Homo sapiens: one gene and its partners. The protein of the gene in region 1 interacts with the protein of each later gene in a biochemical or structural test. Each region holds a gene or a part of one and is shown in the gene's direction. Other genes may lie near its edges. The genes, in order: DGKK, PREX2, PPP1R9A, INTU, PDZD8, CARD14 and SYNPO2L.

Evidence for each region.
Region 2: the proteins of DGKK (region 1) and PREX2 interact in a test that uses a peptide from one of them, tested with the Homo sapiens proteins (one large-scale study listed by IntAct).
Region 3: the proteins of DGKK (region 1) and PPP1R9A interact in a test that uses a peptide from one of them, tested with the Homo sapiens proteins (one large-scale study listed by IntAct).
Region 4: the proteins of DGKK (region 1) and INTU interact in a test that uses a peptide from one of them, tested with the Homo sapiens proteins (one large-scale study listed by IntAct).
Region 5: the proteins of DGKK (region 1) and PDZD8 interact in a test that uses a peptide from one of them, tested with the Homo sapiens proteins (one large-scale study listed by IntAct).
Region 6: the proteins of DGKK (region 1) and CARD14 interact in a test that uses a peptide from one of them, tested with the Homo sapiens proteins (one large-scale study listed by IntAct).
Region 7: the proteins of DGKK (region 1) and SYNPO2L interact in a test that uses a peptide from one of them, tested with the Homo sapiens proteins (one large-scale study listed by IntAct).

Annotation. Positions count from the first base shown.
Region 1 is NC_000023.11:50,376,826-50,380,325, reverse strand, and holds part of DGKK (diacylglycerol kinase kappa), read left to right. Parts: intron 1-248; coding exon 249-345; intron 346-591; coding exon 592-699; intron 700-1,634; coding exon 1,635-1,748; intron 1,749-2,093; coding exon 2,094-2,228; intron 2,229-3,407; coding exon 3,408-3,500. UniProt on the Homo sapiens protein: Diacylglycerol kinase that converts diacylglycerol/DAG into phosphatidic acid/phosphatidate/PA and regulates the respective levels of these two bioactive lipids.
Region 2 is NC_000008.11:68,119,546-68,123,045, forward strand, and holds part of PREX2 (phosphatidylinositol 3,4,5-trisphosphate-dependent Rac exchanger 2 protein), read left to right. Parts: intron 1-650; coding exon 651-741; intron 742-1,375; coding exon 1,376-1,504; intron 1,505-3,500. UniProt on the Homo sapiens protein: Functions as a RAC1 guanine nucleotide exchange factor (GEF), activating Rac proteins by exchanging bound GDP for free GTP.
Region 3 is NC_000007.14:95,267,594-95,271,093, forward strand, and holds part of PPP1R9A (neurabin-1), read left to right. Parts: intron 1-956; coding exon 957-1,114; intron 1,115-1,613; coding exon 1,614-1,914; intron 1,915-3,500. UniProt on the Homo sapiens protein: Binds to actin filaments (F-actin) and shows cross-linking activity. Binds along the sides of the F-actin. May be involved in neurite formation. Inhibits protein phosphatase 1-alpha activity.
Region 4 is NC_000004.12:127,642,957-127,646,456, forward strand, and holds part of INTU (protein inturned), read left to right. Parts: intron 1-564; coding exon 565-1,100; intron 1,101-3,500. UniProt on the Homo sapiens protein: Plays a key role in ciliogenesis and embryonic development.
Region 5 is NC_000010.11:117,284,941-117,288,440, reverse strand, and holds part of PDZD8 (PDZ domain-containing protein 8), read left to right. Parts: intron 1-2,641; coding exon of another isoform or gene 2,642-2,670; exon of another isoform or gene 2,671-2,747; intron 2,748-2,969; coding exon 2,970-3,500. UniProt on the Homo sapiens protein: Molecular tethering protein that connects endoplasmic reticulum and mitochondria membranes. PDZD8-dependent endoplasmic reticulum-mitochondria membrane tethering is essential for endoplasmic reticulum-mitochondria Ca(2+) transfer.
Region 6 is NC_000017.11:80,173,030-80,176,529, forward strand, and holds part of CARD14 (caspase recruitment domain-containing protein 14), read left to right. Parts: 5' UTR 1-199; intron 200-3,500. UniProt on the Homo sapiens protein: Acts as a scaffolding protein that can activate the inflammatory transcription factor NF-kappa-B and p38/JNK MAP kinase signaling pathways.
Region 7 is NC_000010.11:73,649,530-73,653,029, reverse strand, and holds part of SYNPO2L (synaptopodin 2-like protein), read left to right. Parts: intron 1-1,989; exon of another isoform or gene 1,990-2,022; coding exon of another isoform or gene 2,023-2,122; intron 2,123-3,500. UniProt on the Homo sapiens protein: Actin-associated protein that may play a role in modulating actin-based shape.

The DNA of each region.
Region 1 (3,500 bases):
GTAGCAAGCAGAAATGGAAAATTTATTTATTGATAGGATACTGAGGCTTCAAAGGGGCCCAGGAACCCATTTCTTCAAGTGTTTGCATTGGATATCAGTTACATTAACCGCTGTCCAGTTGCCATTTAGCATGACTCCTCTCTGTAAGAAGGCATTTGAGAAGTAAGATGGTTTTCCTTCCTGTCTTTTTCCACCATTTATCTATATATCATTCACCCTCTGCTTTCTTAATGCTTACCTCCATGTAGTAGCCGCCTTAAGAACAAGATGTGGTATGGCCTTCTGGGAACCAAAGAACTTTTGCAGCGCTCTTACAGGAAACTGGAAGAACGAGTGCATTTGGAGGTTAGTGGAAAAGCGGGTAGTCTTTCCTGGGTATGGAGAAAGGAAATCTCATGGCCTTGGGAATACCGTACATGCTGATTCTTCCTGAGCTTTAACTCTGTGATCCTCACAGCTCATGGGAGGAAGGCATGAAGATAGATTTCCATGTAATGGAAGAGAAGACAGAGCCCTTTCCCCATCTCTGTAAATGTTCCTTCATGTTGCTATCTAAAGATCCAGCTAATGAGAGCTACTCTTTTCTTTCAGTGTGATGGAGAAACCATCTCCTTGCCAAACCTGCAAGGCATTGTAGTGCTCAACATTACCAGCTATGCTGGAGGTATCAACTTCTGGGGAAGCAACACAGCAACCACGGTTAGTATGGAACAAGGAATGGGGAGGAAGAAAGGCATGATCCCACTAAGGTCTCTCTGAAGGAAGCATTGTGCTAACTGAAGTGAAAAATAGACAATGGGAGAAGAGGAGGTGGTCCGAGAACCTTTATTAGCAGCAGCTGTATGATCAGTTTTTCAGGCAATTACCATCCGAAAGCAGAAAATTCAACCAAAGACCTCAGGATAAGGTCAACTCGTAGGTGTTGCCTGGGCTTTGGATTTTCCATTCCTCGGGTCTGACAGATCCTTTAAAGGCTATCTAGACCATGCTTTTTTTTTTTTTTTTTTTTTGAAACGGAGTCTTGCTCTGTCATCCAGGCTGGAGTGGCAAGATCTCAGCTCACTGCAACCTCCGCCTCCCAGGTTCAAGTGATTCTCCTGCCTCAGCCTCCCGAGTAGCTGGGATTACAGGCGCCAGCCACCATGCCCGGCTAATTTTTGTATTTTTAGTAGAGACAGGGTTTCGCCATGTTGACCAGGCTTGTTGACCTTGAACTTTTGGCCTCAGGTGATCCACCCACCTTGGCCTCCCAAAGTGCTGGGATTACAGGTGTGAGCCACTGCGCCCGGCCAAGGCCATGCTCTTTTCTCCAAGGAATTCTGTCAGTAAAATCTCCTGGGATGCTGACCATGACCCCTTTACTCTGAGTTTACCCAAGAAGGTCATAAGGCCAATAAGACTGGCCTCAGGTATTTATGATGCTGGATTGGAAAAGGAGGGAACTGGCTAAGAGTGCAGTACCCTTTTCCCAGATTGGCTTTCTGACCTCATCTTTTTCCCTTTTAATAATGAAGTGTTTCCACTCTTCATGAGCTAGAAAAATTCTCACCAGGAGCCTTTAAACATGCCTTCTTGTTATAGACAGGGTGTGATTTCTCAAGGGTGGGAGATGTGACACAGTTCTTCCTCCTCAGGAATATGAGGCTCCTGCAATCGATGATGGGAAACTGGAGGTGGTGGCAATCTTTGGTTCTGTGCAGATGGCAATGTCCCGTATCATCAACCTGCATCATCATCGCATTGCCCAGGTAGGCAGGGGCTGGGTGGGCACTGGGAAGGGGCTGAGGTTTTTGACTGCTACCCAGGATGTGGGATAGTCCCAGGAATTAACTGGGTAGAAGAATGCCAGGGTGGAGTGAGCAGGTTATCTGGTGGGCAGTAAAGTGCTGACTGAGGTTGGAGGCAGAGGTGGCAGAAGCCAATGGAGCAAAAAGCCCATAGGAAACAGGCATTTCTTCCTGGGATGATCTGATTCACATCCTTTCCAGTCCTGCTTCAGATACACATTCAAGGCCATAACTATGAGATTATCAGATAGAGTTACAGCAGTTGCCCCATTTTTCTCTCCCATTCTTCCTCATTTTCTCTGGCAGTGCCATGAGGTGATGATAACCATTGATGGTGAAGAAGGTATCCCAGTGCAGGTGGATGGGGAGGCCTGGATTCAGAGACCAGGCCTTATCAAAATTAGATACAAGAACGCTGCCCAGATGCTGACAAGAGATCGGGTAAGGGGGAAAATCTTGTCTTGGGCTCCTATACTGCCTCATCCATAGTCACTTGAGTACTGAATATTTCCACTCAAGCAGAATTCCTCAAAAGGAGGTCTGTGTGCCCCTGGCATCAGAGTCACTTGAGATGCTGGTTATAAATGCATTCTTGGGCCCCCACACCAGACCCACTGAACCACATAGGGTTGCATAGTTCCCAGGAACCCAAATTTGCAAACAGGCTCCTCAAGACACTCTGATATATACTGACATTTGCAAACACTGTCCAAGAGAGTGAGACAAGGAGCTTCCTCCCCTGGTTTTCGACAAGGTTATCCTCCTCTTTCCACTGCAAAGAGAGCTAAAAGCGTCAGATGATTATGGAAAAATCTTCTCCTTCAGCAACAGATTCTGCATTGAACATGGTCTTTAGGTGTCTCTAAGGTTCCTTAAAATGCTGCATTAATACATGTCATCCACTTCAGCTAAAGCTTCTAAAGCTTATAAAGGAGCTATTATTGATCACATATTCAATGCTTGGAGGTTATCTTGCACTCTAACCTGTGAAAAGTCCATGGAAACAGCAATAGAGAAAGGAAGAGAAGTCCAGTTTATAAACTGCCTATTCTGTGCTAGGCATTTTACATTTCTCTCATGTAGGTTCTCTCCACAATCTTATGAGGTGGATACACTTATTCCCATTTTACAGATGAGGAAAATGAGGACCAGAGAGGTTAAATAATTTGCTAATGGTCACACAACTAGTAAATGACAGAAACACGATTCAAAATTAAATTAGATATGTTTGGCTCTAAACTGCATCACCACATATTGCCTACATTTGGCAAAGAAGGGAGCATGAAAGGTGCTCCACTGTCTTGTCAGTCATGATGCCTTCATATGGGAGCTTCTAGAAACCAGACATGTGTATGATCCAAGCCTGGTGTCCCAAAATCCAGCATACTCAGAACAACAAAAACTAAAGGGCATAGTCCAGAAGAGATTGAATAAAATGATGGATACTTGTATAGGTATATAGATGGGTATGACAGGGGGAATGGACAGGGGGCCCTCCTTCCCCTCTACCCACTGTACCCACATACCCATTGCCCACAAACGTCAGGCTCACAGACAGATCTGTCATGTGCACTAGTAGCTACAGCAATCATTAGGATATGCCACTGTATTCATCTCCAGGACTTTGAGAACTCAATGAAAATGTGGGAATACAAGCATACTGAAATTCAAGCTGCCCCTCAACCCCAGCTGGACTTCCAGGACTCTCAAGAG
Region 2 (3,500 bases), on another chromosome or scaffold:
CACAACTAAACTGTGAGGAGTCCCTTTTTCATATGCAGTAAAAGGAGCTCAGAGTTAGAACAGAAAGGCCTCAATCTGTCCTTCCACCTCCTTTACCTCAATTTCTGACATTTAAACTAGGAATCAACATTCCTTCAGCCAACTAACCTAAAGGATTTTTGTGAATATCAAGTATTTTACAGTCCTGGGAAAATTACTGTTATACACATAGGAGTTACCCTTTTTAGTATTTTTTTTTGTTTTTTTGTTTTCAGAAAGCTTTATGATATTTCTTGCTCAATATTATTTCTAATTTTAAAAAGCACAAGATATTGCCTTGGATGCTAATTTTGTTGTTTTACATTAACAAAATTTATAGCCATAACCAAAATTTGTAGTAGAAGATTTTACCACTTTGAAAAGGATTCCAATAACTTATACAGTAAATTTATATTTTGTGTTAATATATGGTAAGATAGTAAGAAATGTCATTGCAAATGTTATCAGGTGCATTTATTTCAATATTTTATGTAAAGATCGATTTCACAAGCATCATGGGGTTTCAAAAATAATTGTTGCTTTAAGAAAAAATATTTTATAAGATTTACTTTTAGAAATACGTATCATGTACTATGAGAAATATGTAACTCGGAAATCTCTACTATTGATAGGTGGATTCAATTACCAATCTCCTAAAAGGGCAGGCTGTTGTGAGGGCCTTTGACCAAACCAAGTATCTCACTCCAGGCCGAGGATTGCAAGGTAAGCCTTGAAAAATTAACTAGTAGAAGCAATTGAGAAAAACAAGGTGGTAGACAATATAGTCATGAAGCAAGCAGATTGCATAAGAGGAACAATTCCAGTTACTCATGTTTCATAATTCACCAAACACTACTTCTATTCTGATAATTTTTGAATATGTAAAAAAGTCAGCATAGGAATTTTTACATGTCTGTTTCTTTGAAAGTTTAAAATGTTTAATGCCTATAGGGGCCAGGCTGAGCAAAAATAAGTTAATTGAAGATACATAAACATGAAGTTGATTTTGCTGAAACCAAGCGTAATGTCTTCTTGGCTGTTTCCCAGTGGTGAGGAAAGGGTGTGGGGAATGAGAGTTGATGAATGGAAAGGATGGAGCTGCCACTCTGACAAGTAACTAGTTTGGGATAATGAAAGTAGAGTTTTCATCTAAATTTGCTTCGTTTAAACATTTATAAGAAAATAACATGAAGGTTTGACTTTTTACATTTAACGGATTTTCTGATGGTGTGGCAAAAGAAATGACCACCATGTCAATAGTCTAGGACAACAGTGACAGAAGAAGGTTTTGAAGCCTAAAGGCTTCATTGTTTAGGAATTATTTGAGACTTAAGAGAGATTTTCTGTGTTTATTTAGAATTTCAACAGGAAATGGAACCAAAGCTGAGTTGTCCAAAAAGGCTACGGCTTCATATCAAGCAAGATCCTTGGAATCTTCCCAGCAGCGTCCGGACTCTTGCTCAGAACATCAGGAAATTTGTTGAAGGTCAGCATGAAAAGCAAAGAACATTGCATGATATTAGCAATAATCAATTTAAAACCCACTAAAACCAAAAGTTTGGTAATGCCTGATTATTTTTTGCAGTGTTTCCTTTTGTGAAGAAAATAAAAGTACTGAAAATGGTGAGGGAGGAAGAGGGCAAGAAGGAATAAGATTATAGGGTCTTGTGTCCCAAGGTTATAAACATCATGGAGAATATTCTCAGTGAATAAAATAAGGGCTCAAAGTTATGAAGACAAATAGAACGTGAAGAGAATTTAAGACTCTATAAAAGGAGACAATATCATAAACAAATTCTGAAGGATTTACAAAAAGGCATGAAGCAAAAGTTTATCCACAAAAAAAAAATCAGTTGTGAAGCTGTATGAGAATCAAAATAATCACATAGGTTGCATCATTGATTTTTAAGTTTTTATATCAGAAGTGTTTGTCTAAGTTGATTGCTATTAACTACCATAACATTATTTACATGACATTCTATAATTGGTAAAACCTGTAAATTGGAGATATATGACTTTGAGACGACTTCATTGAGATAGATTGCATGTTGTTTAGAATCAGTGTGATTAAGTGAAAATTCTGAGAGTTTCAAAAATGATTATGGTGGAAAAGATAAAATGAGAATTCACCTAGTTGTAAAAATATATAACTCAGAAATTTTCTTCCCAGTGATTAGAACAGTGGTTGGCAACATCTGGAGGTATTGGTTGTCACAATTGTGGGTGTGCTACTGACCTCTAGATAGAGGCCAGGGATGCTGCTGAACATTCTAGAATGTATGAGACAGTTCCTTACAAGGAAGAATTCTCTGATACAAAATGTTAATAGTGCTAAGGTCGAGAAACCCACACAATAAATACTATTCCTGTGTTTACATTTTTATTCTTCAGTCATTTGTTTGTCAGTTGGTTGTGGTCAATAGTATTCAATGGTATTTAACAGAATTACAGTGTAACTGCAGTTATTACCTTAAGTGGGGTAAATTAAAGAGAGCTGTAAATTTTGCTGACAAAAGACAACCCCTTATATCAAATGGAGTCTGAGTTAGTCACTTAACTCTTTTAGGCTTCAACTTCCACATTTATTAAATGACAGAGATGGCTTAAATGTTCTGTGATTACTAAGTCTTCTGCATAGACTTATACTCAAATATAACAACTTATGTTTAGAGATTAGTAGAAAGGAAATTTGTACAGATATGGAATACTTCCCCAAATAAATCATAGTGATTCTATCTTGCGATAAAATCGTGTATTTGACAGCTGGTTTTCTTGGCTATATTTTTATTTTATGGCCTAATGTAATGTTTATCTGTGATACTTTATAACATAATATTTAATGAAAAGTCTGAATTTAAAATTCCCCAAAATATGAATAGCATAAATGTTAAATGCATTTTTGAAAAACTATTATGTTTTAGAAATTTAAGTATATACTTTACTGAGTAAAAGACATTTCTGCTGAATAGATGCCAGTATTATGACACTACTAGAAACTATAATTCTGCAGTTGTTCTCATCATCTTTGAGATTTTATATTTGTTTTAAGGTAAATGCATATTGGCTAGGAATGGAGAAATCCTTAAATCATCTCCCCCACTTTTTTGTTTTGAACAATTTTATCTTTCAGATAGAAATTTCTAATGCTCTCATTAGATTCAAAGAACTTCTTGGCTTCTGCGTTAATTTTACTATTTATCCAAAAGTTATTCAAGGGCAGGTTATTCAATATCCATGTAATTGTATGGTTTTGAGTGAATTTCTTAATCTTTATTTCTAATTTGATTGTGTTATTGTCTGAGAGAGTGGTTGTTATGATTTCACTTCTTTTGCATTTGCTGAGAAGCGTTTTATGTCTGATTATGTCATCGATTTTAGTGTATGTGCCATGTGGTGATGGGAAGAATGTATATTCTGTTGTATTGGGATAGAGATATCTGTAGATGTCTATCAGGACCATTTGATCAGTGCTGAGTTCAGGT
Region 3 (3,500 bases), on another chromosome or scaffold:
GGTAAGAGCCAGGCTAAAGAGGACTAATTGAATTCTCTCTGTGGCCTTTGCTGTTAATAGTTCATTTTCTTTGTGTCCCACTTTACTCTCTTTTTCTTTTAGCCTTTTTATTTAAAGACTTAAGTATTTACCCTTCGAAAATCAGTGTCGTTTCTGGTGGGGAGAGAAGGTATTCACAGAGATGAGTCAGAGGCACATACAAATAACTTGTAATACAAAGTTAGATGTTAATGAAAGAAAAGGAAATGTTTATCCTACCTCATCCACAATACTAGTAAACTAAGTACTTACGATTTTTTAACTGTTTGTTTCTTCATTTGTGTAGCCAGACCTTGTTTCTTTTCCCCAGCTATCGTCAATTTGCTGATTAGGTAAATTCCTCACTGGTCTTTCTACAGGTTTCAAAAAGGAACAAGGTAGATTTTCAGAAACTGTTTTGGGTTGAAAATTATATATTAAAATGAAAATGATATAGTACCTGAAGACTGCTAGTAAATTTTGCTACAGTAAATTTATGATAGTTACCTTCTGTTGCCTGTAGTTGAACTGGAAACCTGACTTTGTAGGTTTTTTGTCCTTGGTTTCTAAGATCTGTCAACTTTTGATATACCCTCCTCTATATCTTTGGTCATCTAACTTCCCAACATGCATACACATAAATAGTAAATACAAATTAGTGATTTTTATAATTATATTGCAGGAAGGTTGTATGCTTTTCGGATGTTGGATTTTTATAGCGCCTTCATCATCTTTAGTGTTGGTTTCTTCCTTTGACTTTGTATATTTCTCCTAAGCCCCACTGATTTCTTGGTTATTTCTTGGTTACAGGCTGTCATGGTGGTCACCTGATCCTTACCTGATGTTACTGGTTACCTTGAGATTTTATCAGTGTCTGTGGTCTCTTCATCAGTTCTCTCCAAAGGTTTCTCTCACTGATTATCTTTCAATATTCTTAGACTTGAATGAAGCAGTCCCAGAGACAGAGCGCCTGGATTCAAAAGCACTGAAAACTCGAGCCCAGCTCTCTGTGAAGAACAGACGCCAGAGACCCTCTAGGACAAGACTGTATGATAGTGTTAGTTCCACAGATGGGGAGGACAGTCTAGAGAGAAAGGTGAGCACCCTTGACCGTTTCCTGATTTGTACTGTTGGAGTATATCATTGTTCCTACAGCTTATTGAAGATTATGATTTTTCTGCAAACAGAGTCTATGTCCTAGTTGGTAAGCAGCTAGAATAGTTCACGTCTTTGTCTCCTGAATTCTTTATATTGTTGTAATTCAAAATATTTTGTCTATTCATTCAGTGAACTAACCAAGAGCATTATCTGTATTGTCATATTTCATGATGGTGCTTTTGATATTCAGCTATTGGTTTTACTTAGTGGGAAATAATGAACGTACAAGTAATTGTTTCTGTAGGTCTTAGGTATATGTATTAGTGACGATGTTAATATGGTGAATTGGTATGAACCATGCATTCTCATCTGTAAATCAACAAAAACTGGTTTTCATGGGGATTCACTAATAAAAGGTTGGTCTTATTTCAAAGTAAGTATTGCATAGAACTGATACTCAGTGGCATAACCTTCCTTATAATCTCTTATACCAACAGCCATCAAACAGTTTCTATAACCACATGCATATTACCAAATTACTTCCACCTAAGGGTTTGAGAACGTCTTCTCCAGAATCAGATTCTGGTGTTCCACCCCTCACCCCGGTGGATAGCAATGTGCCCTTCTCGTCTGACCACATAGCTGAATTTCAAGAAGAACCACTGGACCCAGAAATGGGGCCTCTCTCCTCTATGTGGGGAGACACTTCACTGTTTTCTACTTCAAAGTCTGATCATGATGTGGAAGAATCTCCTTGCCATCACCAAACCACCAACAAGAAAATATTACGAGAAAAAGGTATTGTTAATTTCTTTTTCTGACTTCATAACACCTCAGCTTGTACAGTATAAAAATGACTTTTTCTCATAATCATAAGTCATTTGTTTTCTCATAGCTAATAATTAATATTAATTTCTTTTTATATTATAGAATAAGAGAAACAACCCCTCCATGTATTTTACTTTAATTTAGTTTTATCTTTTCCTATCTGGTTCAGTATTTTTATCTCTTCAGCTCTCTATAAGTTTACTACTCAAGGGAGTTCTTCAGGGGAGTGGGGCAGCCCAGAGTTTCAACAAACACTAACACAGTCATAAAGAAAAAAACACTACATAGTCATATAGAAAAATATAGAGCGATTTTGTAGAATAGCAGCCCAGAGTTTCAGTAAACACTAACGTAGTCATATAGGAAAAAAAGACGAAGATCAAAGTAACACAGGCATATAATTGATACTTAATAATGTTCTTGGATGAATTGCTAATATACCTCTCCACGTAACCAGTGCAGATCTTCTAGAAGAGGGATAATCAACCGAATGTAGTCTCCACCTGCTTTTGTAAATGAAGTCTTATGGGAGTACAGTCACACTTTTTTACTTACATACTATCTATTTTCATGCTACAGTAGCAGTGTTGAGTCGTTGTGACAGAGACTGTGTATCTCACAAACCTAAAATATTTTACTCTGTGGCCCCTGAAAGGTAAAGAAAGCTTCCTGATGCCTGGTCTAGAAGTATATTTTCTTATACTCAAAATTGCTGGATAAACTCTGAAAATGGCTTCATCATTGGTTGCCATTTATCTAGAATTTTTAAAAAGTGTTATACCTTTACTTTTGGTCTATCAAGTTACCACAAAGATGATTAATTACAGCCATGTTTGATTGCAGGCTTGAGGATAAGGCTCTGGTTACCCTAACAGGAGTTGGCGATTTTCTGAATTGTGTCAATACCACATTTACAAATCATTTTTTTTCATATCTGAGGGACATCAGTGGAAATTAGGATGGAGAAGTCCCATTATAACTGGCTAAATGATAAGCATCTAACGGAATATCAAATTAGAGGAAGTAAAAGATTTTTTTCTAGAGATTTGTAAAACAGGTTATATGCCAGTAGAAGGCATGAAAATATTTTCCTCGTTCCTGTTATATAAACAACCTAATACTAAAGTTTTGGTCCCGAGGCTTACATAGCACTGGGCCTTTGTTCAGTCAAGATTAAATAAAGTAAATTGAACACTATCAATTTTCTACTCACAATTACTAGAGATTATTATTCTAATTTTTTGTGTGGTTAATAACACATTATTTGACCCAGAAGATGTGTTCAAAAATATTCATTGAATTAATGTCTAGTAAATAGAAACTGGCTTTTTTAAAGCTTTACAGGATTTATTGCTTATTAAAAGCATTGGGCCTCTGCAAGTATAGATAGAGTACAATTATATCAACGCTCAGAAGAGAGAGAGATTGCGTCCAGCTGAGGTTGGTAAACAAAACCTATCCAAGGAAGTACAATTAGAATAGCCATCAAAGCACTTAAGGGAAAAAAAGGGTAGGTAAGGAGGGAATAGCGGGTAAAGTGATGTCATTAACAGAGA
Region 4 (3,500 bases), on another chromosome or scaffold:
ACAGATTTTAGTTCATGGTGAAGTGAATGTTTCTTTTTTGAAAACTTATGTAAAAGTCTGTTAAAGCTGGCTTTAGCTTTCATTTTAACCTGACAGCCATCCTAAATAATTTCTATGCAAATAATAGATTTTCATGTACAATTTCCAAATGGCATGCTTGTGTGGATATAATTGCATAATCAACTGCTAATGCAAATTATCATTCAGTGAAATTGTTTAAAGTGAGCAGTAACCACACAGTGGTTGATTTAATTTTTTTCAACTCATAGATTCTATAAGGGGACCATCTCTTTTTTCATTGGTTTTCCTTTCTATTGCTATGCCTTTTTGATTCCTTCTCCCCCAACTCCTATTCAAAGCTCTACAAAAAAAGCATCCTATATGAAATAATGTTGAGGATCACAATAAATTAGAAATAGTAAGGATAATTTGAAATAATAAAGAAGTTTCACCCTTTCCCATCTTCCTGCTCCCCAGCCCCAACCCTCACCCCCATGCCAGGATGACATACCTTTCTTTTATATATTGGGCTGCTATTAAGATTATCTTTTCTCTCTTTCATAGTGATCTTGAGCCTGAATGGCTGGACAGTGTGCAGAAAAATGGAGAGCTGTTTTATTTGGAATTGAGTGAGGATGAAGAAGAAAGCCTCCTTCCTGAGACACCAACTGTGAACCATGTCAGGTTCAGTGAAAATGAGATTATCATTGAAGATGACTACAAAGAAAGAAAAAAGTATGAACCCAAACTCAAGCAGTTTACCAAAATTTTAAGAAGGAAAAGACTTTTACCCAAGCGCTGCAATAAAAAAAATAGCAATGACAATGGACCAGTATCCATTCTAAAGCATCAGTCCAATCAGAAGACAGGAGTCATTGTCCAACAGCGATACAAAGATGTGAATGTTTATGTAAACCCCAAAAAGCTAACTGTTATCAAAGCCAAAGAGCAGCTCAAGCTTCTGGAAGTGCTGGTTGGAATTATTCATCAGACCAAGTGGAGCTGGAGAAGAACCGGAAAGCAGGGTGATGGAGAGAGGCTTGTGGTTCATGGCCTGCTGCCAGGGGGATCTGCTATGAAGAGCGGTCAGGTACTCATTGGTAAGTGTTGCTGGTACACATCCATCCCTGTTTACAGAGATCTTGATTAATGATGACACCTTGCGGGAAATGTGATAAAAACAATTATATACAGTCTCCACAGATAAAGAACTGATTAATGACATTTGGTACAGTAGAGAAATGGTTACACATGGTGCACTACAAGGCACAGTGTTCTTAAAATGACCAGTTCAGTGTGTTGAGTATGTGTGTGCCTTGTTCAGGCCAAGAAATAGCTTACCTAATTTTCAAGTTTTGAATTATATAATTTTATTTCATCTTGGTTATATTTGCTGACAAGAAAAAAAACGTTGATCATAGAGTGATAATTTAGGTTTGAATGGCTATATCCAGTAACAGGATACAAAAATATATAATTTATGAATAAAAATACTTTTAAATTGTATGTTTGCACTTGAGTACACTAAGTTCTTGGAGTGGTTTTCAACTGTTTCATTTGGCATATTTTGCAACAGTGGTGTTATATATAAATTTCCTTTTAAGGGCGTGTGTCATAAAATATATCTGTCATAAAATAGCCCACCAATTTTCAAGAAAAATAAACCCACAAATTATTCTGAATATATATTAAGATGAACATTTTGTGTTGCTGATAAATTTTAAGCTGTTAGATACAATGTTTGAGTTAGTAGCAATCTAATTACTTAAAGATAAATGAGTAAAATTTGAGGATATATTATTACTAAAATTTAAAAGTAATAACAGTTCTAAAAGCTGACAGTCTTTTAAGTTTATCTAGCATAAGAGGTTTAAATGAAGAACATTTACAGATAAATTTACAAATATTTCCAACTTTAAATCTGAATTTCATTTGTTTGTTCACTGATTTGACAGTTTGTTTTTTTAGCATCTGCTAAGTGCCAGGAATACAAAGATTACTTTACTGATCCAATTATTTCTTGAAAGGAGCTATGTTTTAGTGGAAGAGACGGGTTACAGATAGGCAGGCAGCTCCTCACTGTCTGATAAGTGTCATCATAGGGGTTTACAAGGAGGATCATATGGAATCTTGTAAGAAGGGCATCTGTGGCAAAGTATGTGTTCCAGAATGATCTCAACAGGATCTGCACACTTTCTTAAAATGTAGTGTTGATACTCCTCCCATGGAGAGTTGTGCTCTGTGTCATTGAATCTGGGTGGGCCGGTGACTACAGCTTAATTGGTGCCATGTGACTTAAGAGGTTGGATCATAAAAGGTGATGCAGCTTCTGCCTGGTTATTTTGGGGATACTTGCCCTTAGAACCCAGTCACCATTGTGTGAAGAGGTCAAGACACCAGTGATCCAGCTGATAGCCCCAACTGAAGCCCTCGCCACCAGATGTGAGTGAGAAGCCTTTAAGATGACTCCAGCCCCAACCACCATCTGCCTGTAACTGCATGAGGAATCCCAAGTGAGAACCACAGCTGACCCCAGTTAACCCCAGAACCAGGAGAGATGATAAATTATTGTTGTTGTTATTTTTTTATTTTTTATTTTATTTATTTATTTATTTATTTTTGAGATGGAGTTTTGCTGTTGTCACTCAGGCTAGAGTGCAATGGCACCATCTTGGCTCACTTCAACCTCTACCTCCCGGGTTCAAGCGATTCTTCTGCCTCAGCCTCCTGAGTAGTTGGGATTACTGGCACCCACCACCATGCCTGACTAATTTTTTTGTATTTTTTAGTAGAGATGGAGTTTCACCATGTTGGTCAGGCTGGTCTTGAACTCCTGACCTCAGGTGATCCACCCGCCTCAGCCTCACAAAGTGCTGGGATTACAGGCGTGAGCCACCGTGCCTGGCCAACTGTTGTTGTTTTAAGCCTCAGAATTATTTGGATAGGCCTGGCGTGGTGGCTAACACTTGTAATCCCAGCACTTTGGGAGGCCAAGGTGGGCAGATCACTTGAGGCCAGGAGTTTGAGACCAGCCTGGCCAACATGGCAAGACCCCGTGTCTACTAAAAAATACAAAACTTAGCTGGGCCTTGTGGTGCATGCCTGTAATCTCAGCTGCTGGGGAGGCTGGGGCACGAGAATCACTTGAACCTGGGAGGCAGAGGTTGCAATGAGCCAAGATTGTACCACCGCACTCCAGCCTGGGGGAACACAGTGAGACTCTGTCTCAAAAAAAAAAAAAAAAATTGTTTGGATGACTTATTATGCAACAATAGATGACTGGAACAGGGGCTAATACATACTTACATTCTCTTGGGTCCTCTACTTTCCTTCTTGTGAAATGATAGGATAGAACTAAATATCTCTATGGTTTGTTCTTTTAGTTCTGTAAAAGGAGCCAGAATTCATTTAACGTGCCCCCCTTTCAGTGGTGTTTCCTGTGAGTTGGTAGTTAGATCTTGAGGCCTATCAAACATATTTTATAGGTGGTCTGTGTGCTT
Region 5 (3,500 bases), on another chromosome or scaffold:
AACAGAAAAGCTTTTGTATGTCTCTTTTTTTGTTTTTTTGTTTGTTTGTTTTTTTCTGTACATAAATATATGCCTTTCCCAATTTTTGTTTAGGAAACAAAAATTTCTAAACTATGCATTTTTGTAATAGTCTTTATTTCTTTTAGCATGTTGTAAACTTTCCCCATGTCAACAGATATTTTTCAAAACATTTTTATATCGCTTTGATTCATTTATATGGGTATATAATTGATGATAGTTGAAATAAGATTGGCAAAATATTATATTTGAAGCTCAAAATGGAATTCATTTTACTGTTTCCTCAGCTTTTGAGTGTGTTTGAAATATTCCAAAAGAAAAATCCAGACTTGAATGGTGTATTCCTGAGAGAGAGTTGCAATGGCCATCTCCACAAAACACCTGATGACTGAGGAATAGATGAGACGAGGGCAGATTTTTAGTCATAAAAAATGAGTTCAGATTGAGTTGAAGTTTTTGCCTACTGTAGATCATTAGATGGACTAATTTTTCATTTATGCATATGTCAAACTATAATTTTGCTGAGACATAGTATGGTTAGAAGGACGTAGTAGAACTTAAAGCTAGATAAATAATGAAGCACCATATTAGAAAGCTCTGAATTTCCATGTGATAAGTTTGTAGGCTAAAGGGGCAAATGCTTTAGGAAAATTTCGTAGCAATATGTTTGGTGTTTAAAGTAGGGAAGGTCTGAGTGAGAGATTGCAGTTAAAAGCTGTTTATTACTAAAGTGAAGGCCAGTTATCAGGAGGATCTGAACAGGGAAGGAAAATGGGCTGAAATCACAAGTTTGAGTTGACAGCTGAATGTTTCTAGGGAGTCAAATATCCCTAGGATTCAAATTGAGTTAACTGGGAGTGGCAAGTTGATTGATAGTAGTGAGGACAGAGAGACAGTCAAAGAAAGGTTTTAGCTCTGCTGAATATTTAGTCCCAAAGGAACATCCAGGTGGTGATGTCCAGTAGTTGGGAATGTAGAACTAAAGTGAAGAAGAAGGGAAACCAAAGAAAAAGTTGATAGTTTTTGAGACTACTGGAGTGGCTGTAATTTACCAGGGAGAGAGCAAAAAAGGGTGAGAGAACTAGTGGCAAACTTTGGTAACAGTTGCATATAAGGTGCAGGTGGTATAGGTGGAGAAAAAGAAGCTAGAGGAGAGGTGATCAGAACCAATTGTGTAAAGTGTTGTGGAAACTAAGAAAAAGAAAAATTTTAAAGAAAAGGAAGAAAAAGTTTAAGGATAATTGATAGAGCAAAGTCAGGAAGGAGACAGGAGGATTGGATCCAAAGTAAGTATACAGATAGAGGGATATTTTCTCCTCTGAAGTAAGATAATACTAAAAATGATGGTAGGGAGAAAAGGTAGCTTCATATTGATCTTTTTGGCAAATAAGGTGATAGCATGCACAGAGTAAAAGAGAGTAGGGAGAGTAGACTTTAGGGAAACAGGAAAGATTTACAGCTGATGTTTGAGAGACTTAGTTGTTTACAGACTGATCAAAAGAATGCTAAGCAGCCCTGAACACCTTGCCAAAGATGGATGGCTAACTTGATGCTAGATCCAAGCGGCAAGCTCAAGAGCAGGAAAGGGCAATAGTGGGGCTAGTAAAGCTGGGGATCAAAAAACATGAGGACGAGAAAATAAAATATTGGTAAGAACATCGTTGTAATCTTGAGACACAGGGTTGGATAGAAGAGCAAGTGGTATCAGGAGACCAACAGGACCATGAGAAGAAAAGAGGAATGATTGGGCCGGGAAGTTGCCTAAAAGTAGTGAGCAGACAGGATTGTAAGAGGTGAAAAATAGGAGCTTGTGATCAGAGACTAATTGAAAATGAAAGATCTTTGATGTGGACAAGTTCCAAGTGATGACCGAGTCTAAAGCCTGATCTTCCCAGACAGCTGAAGTAAGAGAGGACACAGGTTGAGGAAACCTGAAGTCAAGTTATGAGAAAGGGGTGGTGTTACTTAGATTTATTTAGGATGGCCCTAAGATCTTTGGAAAACAAAGAGCCTTCTCATTCTTTCTCTAAGTTCTACATAAAGGGATAGCTTGGGCAAGTGCTGTTTTAGAGAGTGTGGGAAGAGTGACAGGAAACAAGTAGCACCTTTAAGTGCTAACACACCTAGAATATCTATAGAAGCATACACTAGAAGCTACTAAGGTCAGGGAAGGGACAGTATGGCTGGGAGACAGAGGTGGAAAGAATATTTTTTACTGTACATCTTTTTATACCTTTATACCTTTCAAATTTTAAACTACGTGTAACAATTAAAAAATAAGAAAAATAAAAACAACGTAGATATTACAGATGCAGATAGTAACCAGCTTGTTTAACTTTAAAGCAGTTTATCCCTTACTTGTTCTTTCTGGTTTTGAAAAAGATGAATGTGATGGGTACGGTTGATAAAAAGAATCTGTAAAAGTACGTTATTCATAGTATAGTATTTTGCTACATTATTTTCAAGCACTGCTCTCTTAATTTGAATCTTTCATCATATGTCTTGTAATCCCTGGAGTATTTTAGAATTTCCTTCAGTGGAATCACAGCTTTCCCTCACTCTAAGTCTGATTTAGCCATTAATAGAATCCTTTAAATAGATCTCTCTCTGTTCACTTCTTCAGTTCAAACTGAGAGATGTCATCTAACCTAAGAAGAGATAGAAAGCAATTAGGAGTTAGCATCCTGGCACTCTTTTTGGGATCCTGTGTCATCATCTGGTTTGAAAAGGTAAACATCTCCAGGATATCAGCACATTCAGGGTTTGAGAATTAGCACACTGATTCATCCAAAAGCCAAATAAAATATTGTTGAGATTTTCCTATTATTCTTCTATTAGTTAAATAACCAGAGGTAATGGCAATTATATATATTTAATTAAATACATTTAACAAATGTAGTAATTTCTATTGCAATAATTTACATGTTTTCCCTTTTAAAATCTTAAACCAGGTGTGAAAATCACATCAACACTGCAAGTGTTGAAGCTTATCAAGCAGGCTGGTGACCGAGTCCTGGTGTACTATGAAAGGCCTGTTGGCCAGAGTAATCAAGGTGCAGTGCTGCAAGATAACTTTGGCCAGTTGGAAGAAAACTTTTTGTCAAGCTCATGCCAATCGGGTTATGAAGAGGAAGCTGCCGGGTTGACAGTAGATACTGAAAGTAGAGAGCTGGATTCTGAATTTGAAGACTTGGCAAGTGATGTCAGAGCACAAAATGAGTTCAAAGATGAGGCACAATCATTAAGTCATAGTCCCAAACGTGTTCCAACAACACTTTCTATTAAACCCCTTGGAGCTATATCACCAGTTTTAAACCGTAAATTAGCTGTAGGAAGTCACCCACTACCACCGAAAATTCAGTCCAAAGATGGAAATAAACCTCCACCCCTAAAAACTTCTGAGATAACAGACCCAGCACAAGTGTCAAAACCAACCCAAGGATCTGCTTTCAAACCACCTGTGCCACCACGACCACAAGCGA
Region 6 (3,500 bases), on another chromosome or scaffold:
ACCACCACAGCCGGCTAATTTTTCTATTTCTAGTAGAAATGGGGTTTCACCATGTTGGCAGGCTGGTCTCGAACTCTGACCTCAAGTGATCTGCCTGCCTCAGCCTCTGAAAGTGCTGGATTGCAGGCGTGAGCCACCGCACCAGGCCTAAACAGATTTCTTTACAATCTACCACCATGAACAGCAAGCATTAGCATTGGTGAGGAGTGTTCCAGAATCCCTCTGCTCTCTGCCTCTCCATTTCTCTCCCCCTCTCTTTCTCTCTCATGCACACACACACACACACACACACACACGCGCGCGCGCGCGCGCGGAATGACAGGACAGACTGATCGGCAGATTGGATGAATGGATGGATGGGCACATAGATTGAGGGACTCCCAGAGATAAACTAACACCATTTTATAAAAATGGTATCATATTCTACATGATTGAAATGTAAACTTTTAATTTTACTTAAATTTTAGTTCAGCTCAGATGTTGCTGGCAAAAGTTTTTTTTTATTATTTTTATTTTTTATGTACTGCTCCTTGAGGAGCTGGGCTAACTCATAGGCAGTGCATCCAGATTCGGCATTTTTTTTTTTTTAGATGGAGTCTCGCACTGTCACCCTGGCTGGAGTGCAATGGCACAATCTCGGCTCACTGCAACCTCTGCCTCCCAGGTTCAAGTGATTCTCCTGCCTCAGCTTCCCAAGTAGCTGGGATTACAGGCACACACCACCACACCTGCCTAATTTTTTGTATTTTAGTACAGATGGGGTTTCACTATGTTGGCCAGACTGGTCTCGAACTCCTGACCTTATGATCTGCCCACCTCGGCCTCCCAAAGTGCTGGGATTACAGGCGTGAACCATCGCGCCCAGCCAAAAAATATTTTTTAATTGTTAAAAATAATAATGGAATGCCAAATGTAGTAGAACAGTTTCACAATGACAAGAACTATTAGTTCCTAAAAAATCCCCAAGATTCAGATAAGAGATTACAAAAACCTTGATAAATTAGTGACATTATGTAAAATCAACAGTGCTGGGTTTGGTGGCTCAGACCTGTAATCATTGCACTTAGGGAGGCAGAGGCGGGAGGAGTGCTTGAGCCCAGGAGTTTGAGAGCCTGGCCAACATAGCAAGACCCCATTCTCCACAAAACGGAAAATACAATAAAATAAAATCAGCGTTTTGTTTTATTTTATTAATTTATTTGAGATGGAGTCTCGGTCTGTCTCCCTGGCTGGAGTGCAGTGGCGTAATCTCAGCTCACTGCAGCCTCTGCCTCCCGGGTTTAAGCGATTCTCCTGCCTCAGCCTCCCAAGTAGTTGGGATTACAGGCATGTACCACCACACCCAGCTAATATTTGTATTTTTAGTAGAGACAGGGTTTTGCCATGTTGGCCAGACTGGTCTGGAACTCCTGACCTCAGGCGACCTGCCCGTCTCTGCCTCCCAAAGTGCTGGGATTACAGGCGTGAGCCACGTCGCCTGGACTTCCTTTATTTTAGATAGCACAGGGTCATGGAAGATAAAGTGATGCCTTCCTTCCCCTACCCCCTACCCCGATTTCTACTGCTTGCATTATTTCTTAGGGTAAAGAATCTTCTTATTTGGCTGGAAGACTCTATTCCCACCGTAGTTTAGTCCTGGATGTGTGATTAAAGAAATCCAGTGGTTGCCCTGCGCTGAGAAGGACAGCCGGGCCTGGGTTCTCTCCTGGCTCAGTACAGCCCCCTCCCCACTCCTGCTGAGGACTCCCAGGGAAGCTGGAGGCAGCTCTGGGGCGTTTTCTCTGACTTCCCTAGACTTCTCTTCAGCTGCCCAAACAGTAGAGGGATGCTGAAGCCCTCTCTTCCCGCAGTCTGTCCCTAAGGGTTGCGCTGGCACCTGTGCCCCCAGTGCCCCTTGGCAGCACTCCTTTGGTTTCAGGGCTTGTCTGCCATTTTTCTTTTTTCTTTCTTTCTTTTTTTTTTTTAAGACAGGGTCTCAGTCTGTCATCCAGGCTGGAGTGCAGTGATGCAATCTCATTTCACTGCAACCTCTGCCTCCCGGGCTCAAGTGATCCTTCCACCTCAGCCTCCCAAGTAGCTTGGGGACCACAGGCTCACGCTACCATGCCCGGCTAATTTTTGTATTTTTTGTAGAGACAGGGTTTCGCCATGTCACCCAGGCTGGTCTTGAACTCCTGGGCTCAAGCGATCTGCCTGCCTCAGCCTCCCAAAGTTCTGGGATTGCAGGTGTGAGCCACCATGCCCGGCCTGCTATTTTTCAGTTTGTGGCAGAAAAGTTGTTTTCCTTTCCTCATTTTGTGGTTGCTGCTTTATTCACTTATTTATTTTTTTAACTTTTTAAAACGCAACATTTGGTTCATTTCACCAGGAGCTGGGGAGGGAGGTACAGGAGGCTGCCCTGATCCTTTGTTGGGTTTGATCTGGAGACTTTGACGTGACAGAGCGACTGCGCCCACTGGTTGTCCTCTAAGAAGGCGTGAGGGGAAGCCCAGACGCCTCTGCAGGAGCCAGAGACATTCCTAGGGGGTCACAGGGTCAGCTGAGGTGAACAGGGATTCTGGAATGAGGAAGCCAAGGGGATGGAAGGGAGGAGGCTGGCAGGGAAACGCCCAGAGCACGTGCTCCTGCCCGACACCTCCAGGCAGAGAACAGGAGCTGGCAAGAGAGGAACCCCGCTTGTGGTGGGGACGCTGAACAGGCAGGGCCTGGCTGGGATGGGGGCCCAGCCTAGGCTGAAAACGAAGAGAAAGGAAAGTGGGTGCCGGTGTCCCACGCACTGTGGACCCCCAGCCCTGGCCCTGGGGTGGCAGGGGCAGAACCGGGCACTGCAGGGACCTCCTCAGCCCACCCTCCTCCTGCTTCCTGGCAGGGATGAGAGAGGGAAGCAGGAGGCAGGGTGGGATTGCCAGCTGCTCTCGGATCGTTTTTTTTTTTTTTTTTTTTTTTTTTTTTTTTTTTTTTTTAAAAACGGGATCGTGCTATGTTGCTAGGCTAGTCTTGAACTCCTGGGCTCAAGCGATCCTCCTGCCTCTGCCTTCCAAATTACAGGCATGAGCCACTGCACCAAGCCTGGATCTTTTTTTTTTTTTTTAAACAACTTTGTTGAAATATAACTCACGGCCAAACACAGTGGCTCACACCTATAATCCTAGCACTTTCGGAGGCTGAGGGGGGAGGATCACTTGAGCCTAGGAGTTTGAGACCAGCCCAGGCAACATAGTGAGACCCCCTTCTTTACAAAAAACAACAACAACAAAAAAAATGAGCCTGGCATGGGGGCACATATCTGTATTCCCAGATACTCCGGAGGCTAAGGTAGAGGATCACTTAAGCCCAGAAGACGGATGTTGCCGTGAGCTGAGATTGCACCATTGCACTCCAGCCTGAGCAACAGAGCAAGACCTTGTCTCAAAAAAAAAAAAAAAAAAAAAGGAAGAGCTATAACCCATACGGCACACAATTCACCCGTTTAAGATGCTTCTAGTGTATTCACAGATGTG
Region 7 (3,500 bases), on another chromosome or scaffold:
TGGGGACAGGAGGGGTAATGAGTAGAAGGGGAGCATAATTATTCTCATGGCCACCATTATTTTTGCTGTTTGAACCAATGTGGCAAAAGGGTAAGGTGATTCAGTTCAACCCAGGAACAGGGTAAGTAGGGAAATTGGAAAGGGACACAAATAGATGAAGGGTTTGGTGGTGGTGATAATTGTTATTGTGTGTCATGATTGGGTGAAAGCAGAGTACAGACACAGGACAGGGGAGTATTTAAAAGCAGGTTGAAGGCGGGGCAAGGTGGCTCATACCTGTAATCCAAGCACTTTGGGAGGCTGAGGTGGGAGGATAGCATGAACGCAGGATTTTTGTTTTGTTTTGTTTTTTGTTTTTTTGAGATGGAGTTTGGCTCTTGTGCCTAGGCTGGAATGCAATGGCGTGATCTTGGCTCATTGCAACCTCCGCCTCCCGGGTTCAAGCGATTCTCCAGCCTCTGCCTCCCGAGTAGCTGGGATTATAGGCACCCGCCACCACACCTGGCTAATTTTTTGTATTTTTAGTAGAGATGGGGTTTCACCATACTGGTCAGGCTGGTCTCGAACTCCTGACCTCAGGTGATATGCCTACCTCGGCCTCCCAAAGTGCTGGGATTACAGGCGTGAGCCACCATGCCCGGCAGAAGCCAGGAGTTTGAGACCAGCCTGGACAACATCGTGAGACTTCGTCTCCAGTAAAAATTTTAAAATTAGCCAAACACTGTGGCACATGTCTATGGTCCCAGCTACTTGGGAGGCTGAGGCAAGAGGATTGCTTGAGCCTGAGAGGTTTGGGCTGCAGTGAGCCATGTTTGCGCCACTGCACTCCAGCGTGAGCAACAGACCAAGACCCTGTCTTAAAAATAAATAAATAAATAAATAATAAAAATTAATAAATAAAAGTGGGTCAAAGCTACAGGGGTTCTTTTTTTTTTCTGGTTTTTTTTTTTTTTTTTTTTTTTTGAGATAGAGTCTTGCACTGTCACCCGGGCTGGAGTGCAATCTTGGTTCACTGCACCCTCCACCTCCTGGGTTCAAGCAATTCTCCTGCCTCAGCCTCCCGAGTAGCTGGGATTACAGGTGCCCGCCACTACACCTGGCTAATTTTTTGTATTTTTAGTAGAGACGGCGTTTCACTATGTTGGCCAGGCTGGTCTCGAACTCCTGACCTTGTGATCCACCCGCCTCGGCCTCCCAAAGTGCTGGGATTGCAGGCGTGAGCCATTGGCCAAAGGATTCTTTATAGTATTAATAGCAGGCACCTTTGACATTTGCAAGTTCAGTTCGGATTCCTGGGGACTGAGAGGCTATGGGATGATCATGAGATCCCGAGGAAGTGGCAGAGGGAGGGAGCTTTGGCTCCTTATCTCAGGCAAGAATGTTGGCCTGGGCAGAAAAAGCCCATTCCACTTATCTCAGGCTTTGCTATTTTTGATGTGAGCTACAGAACAAGGTCTAAGGGTAAACGTTCTCCCTGCTCTATGCCTCCCGTGCTTTCCCACAGAGACCGTTCTTGTTACCTCCAAAATCTCATGATTCCCCCTCTAGTTATATTTCTTCCCTCTCCTCCACCATTTTGATTCCTGATCTATAGAACTTTGTGTCTCTCAGTTTGGAGTGGAGGCTAAGGACATGAGAGTTGAGAGTCTGACATCCCTGAGTGTCCAATATCCCAGGAATTCCAGATGCGTGCCTAGGATCCTATGCTTTCCTCAATTCTCCACTTATCTCCCCCTCCCTTCCCATAATGCTGGATGAGACTGTAGCTACTGGCTCAGAGATATTTTTAGTCAAGCAGACCTCATTGTCTACTGGGGTGGGGTTGGGGGAAGGGAAGGCAGGTGCCCACATCCATCACACCGGCACTTGTGGGGCAGCCCAGAGAAGGGAGAGGGCCAGGCTCCAAAAATAGCACAGTGAGCTCATTCAGCTGCCAGCTCTGGGGACAAGACAAAGGGGCTTTAAAAGGCGTGGGGGGTGGCTCAAGCTGGTCCTGCTCCAGCCAACACCGCCTTTCTCAGCATGGAGACCTTTGAGCCCATCAGCCAAGAGCCCCTCAGCCAAGCCAGCTATGACAAAGCCCCAGACCCAGTTCCTGAGCTCCAAGACTCGTTCTATGCAGGTACTACCCTCCCATATCTATGAGAGTCTGGGGTCTAGAATGGAGGGGAAGATGTCAATAGTTTAGGAAGGGTAGTCTTTGGGAAAGGTCTTACTCTCTTGTTCCTTTTTGCTGTCCTCTTCCTCCTTTTCTCAGGAGAGTTTCACTGCCCCTTTCTCAGTGATGCTGTGGTCACATGTCAAAGGGGTTTCTGACCACAAGAGCTGTAGAAAACTCATGGGAACAGAGCGTGTGTGAGTACATTATGAATACATGAAGGCATGTATGTGTGAGTCATGGGAGAAGATATGTGTGAACAAGAAAGTATCCATATATATCAAGAAAGTATAGTGTCAAGAAGACTTCAATAGTAATGGTTATAGTGGGCCTTCACACTGTGTTAAGTGCTAAATTTACTATATTATCTCAGTTAATCCTTATAGCAATCCTATGAGGTAGCCATTGTCTACCCTCATTTACAGATGAGGAAACCGAACTTTAATGAGGTGAGGTAACTATCCCAGAAACCAAAAACCTGAACTGAACTCTGACTCTAGGGCCTGTTGTCTCATCCATACCACTATTCTGTGGTATAAACACTGGGATGAGAGGAATGACAAAAATGAAAAAGTTCCATCTACTTTCCACTCAAGATACCACGCTCATTACAAAGGAGCTCATTACAAAGCTCATTACAAAGGAGCTCATTACAAAGGAGCATGGTACCTTGAGTGGAAAGTAGATGGAATCTCAATAATTTTTCAGGAGGAACTGGGGACCATGGACCAGAGAGTATCCATGTGCAAGGCGGGGTCCTCGCAGCAGGGTAGCCCTCCCATTTCCTGGCCCCACCTACCCAGGCCCCACATGGCATGGAAAGCCCTGCCCTGGTTCCCTTTAGCACATAGTCTTTGTGTGCCTGGCTGGCAGTGGCTGCCTGAGCTCTCTACGTAGAGACAGTTCTGACCCCTGAAGAAGCCCACCCCACTACCATCCCCAGCTTGGGGTAAATAATATATTTAGCTGGCGACCTTGAGGTATCCTAAAGATTTGGAGTGTTGCCTTGGAGAACAACACTCTAACTTTTCCTGCATCTTGGATGGAGACTACCCCTGACTGTGAGTAGCAGGGGTGTGAAGCCCAGAGGACTGCCCTGGCAGTTGGAAGGCCGAGATCAACTTTAACTTCTGTCTAAACTGTTAGTAACAGGGTCTCTGCAGGGAGGTCTCTGGGAAGAAGGGCCACCTAGAGCATGTAGGTGTGTGAATGTATTTGAGTGATGGTGTTTTGATGTGCACACATGTGTATTTACATAAGTGTATGTGAATGGAGCTGTATGTAAGCTGGGGTATATGTGAATGAGAGAGAAAAGTAAATAGGAGAAAGTACGCCTACAGTT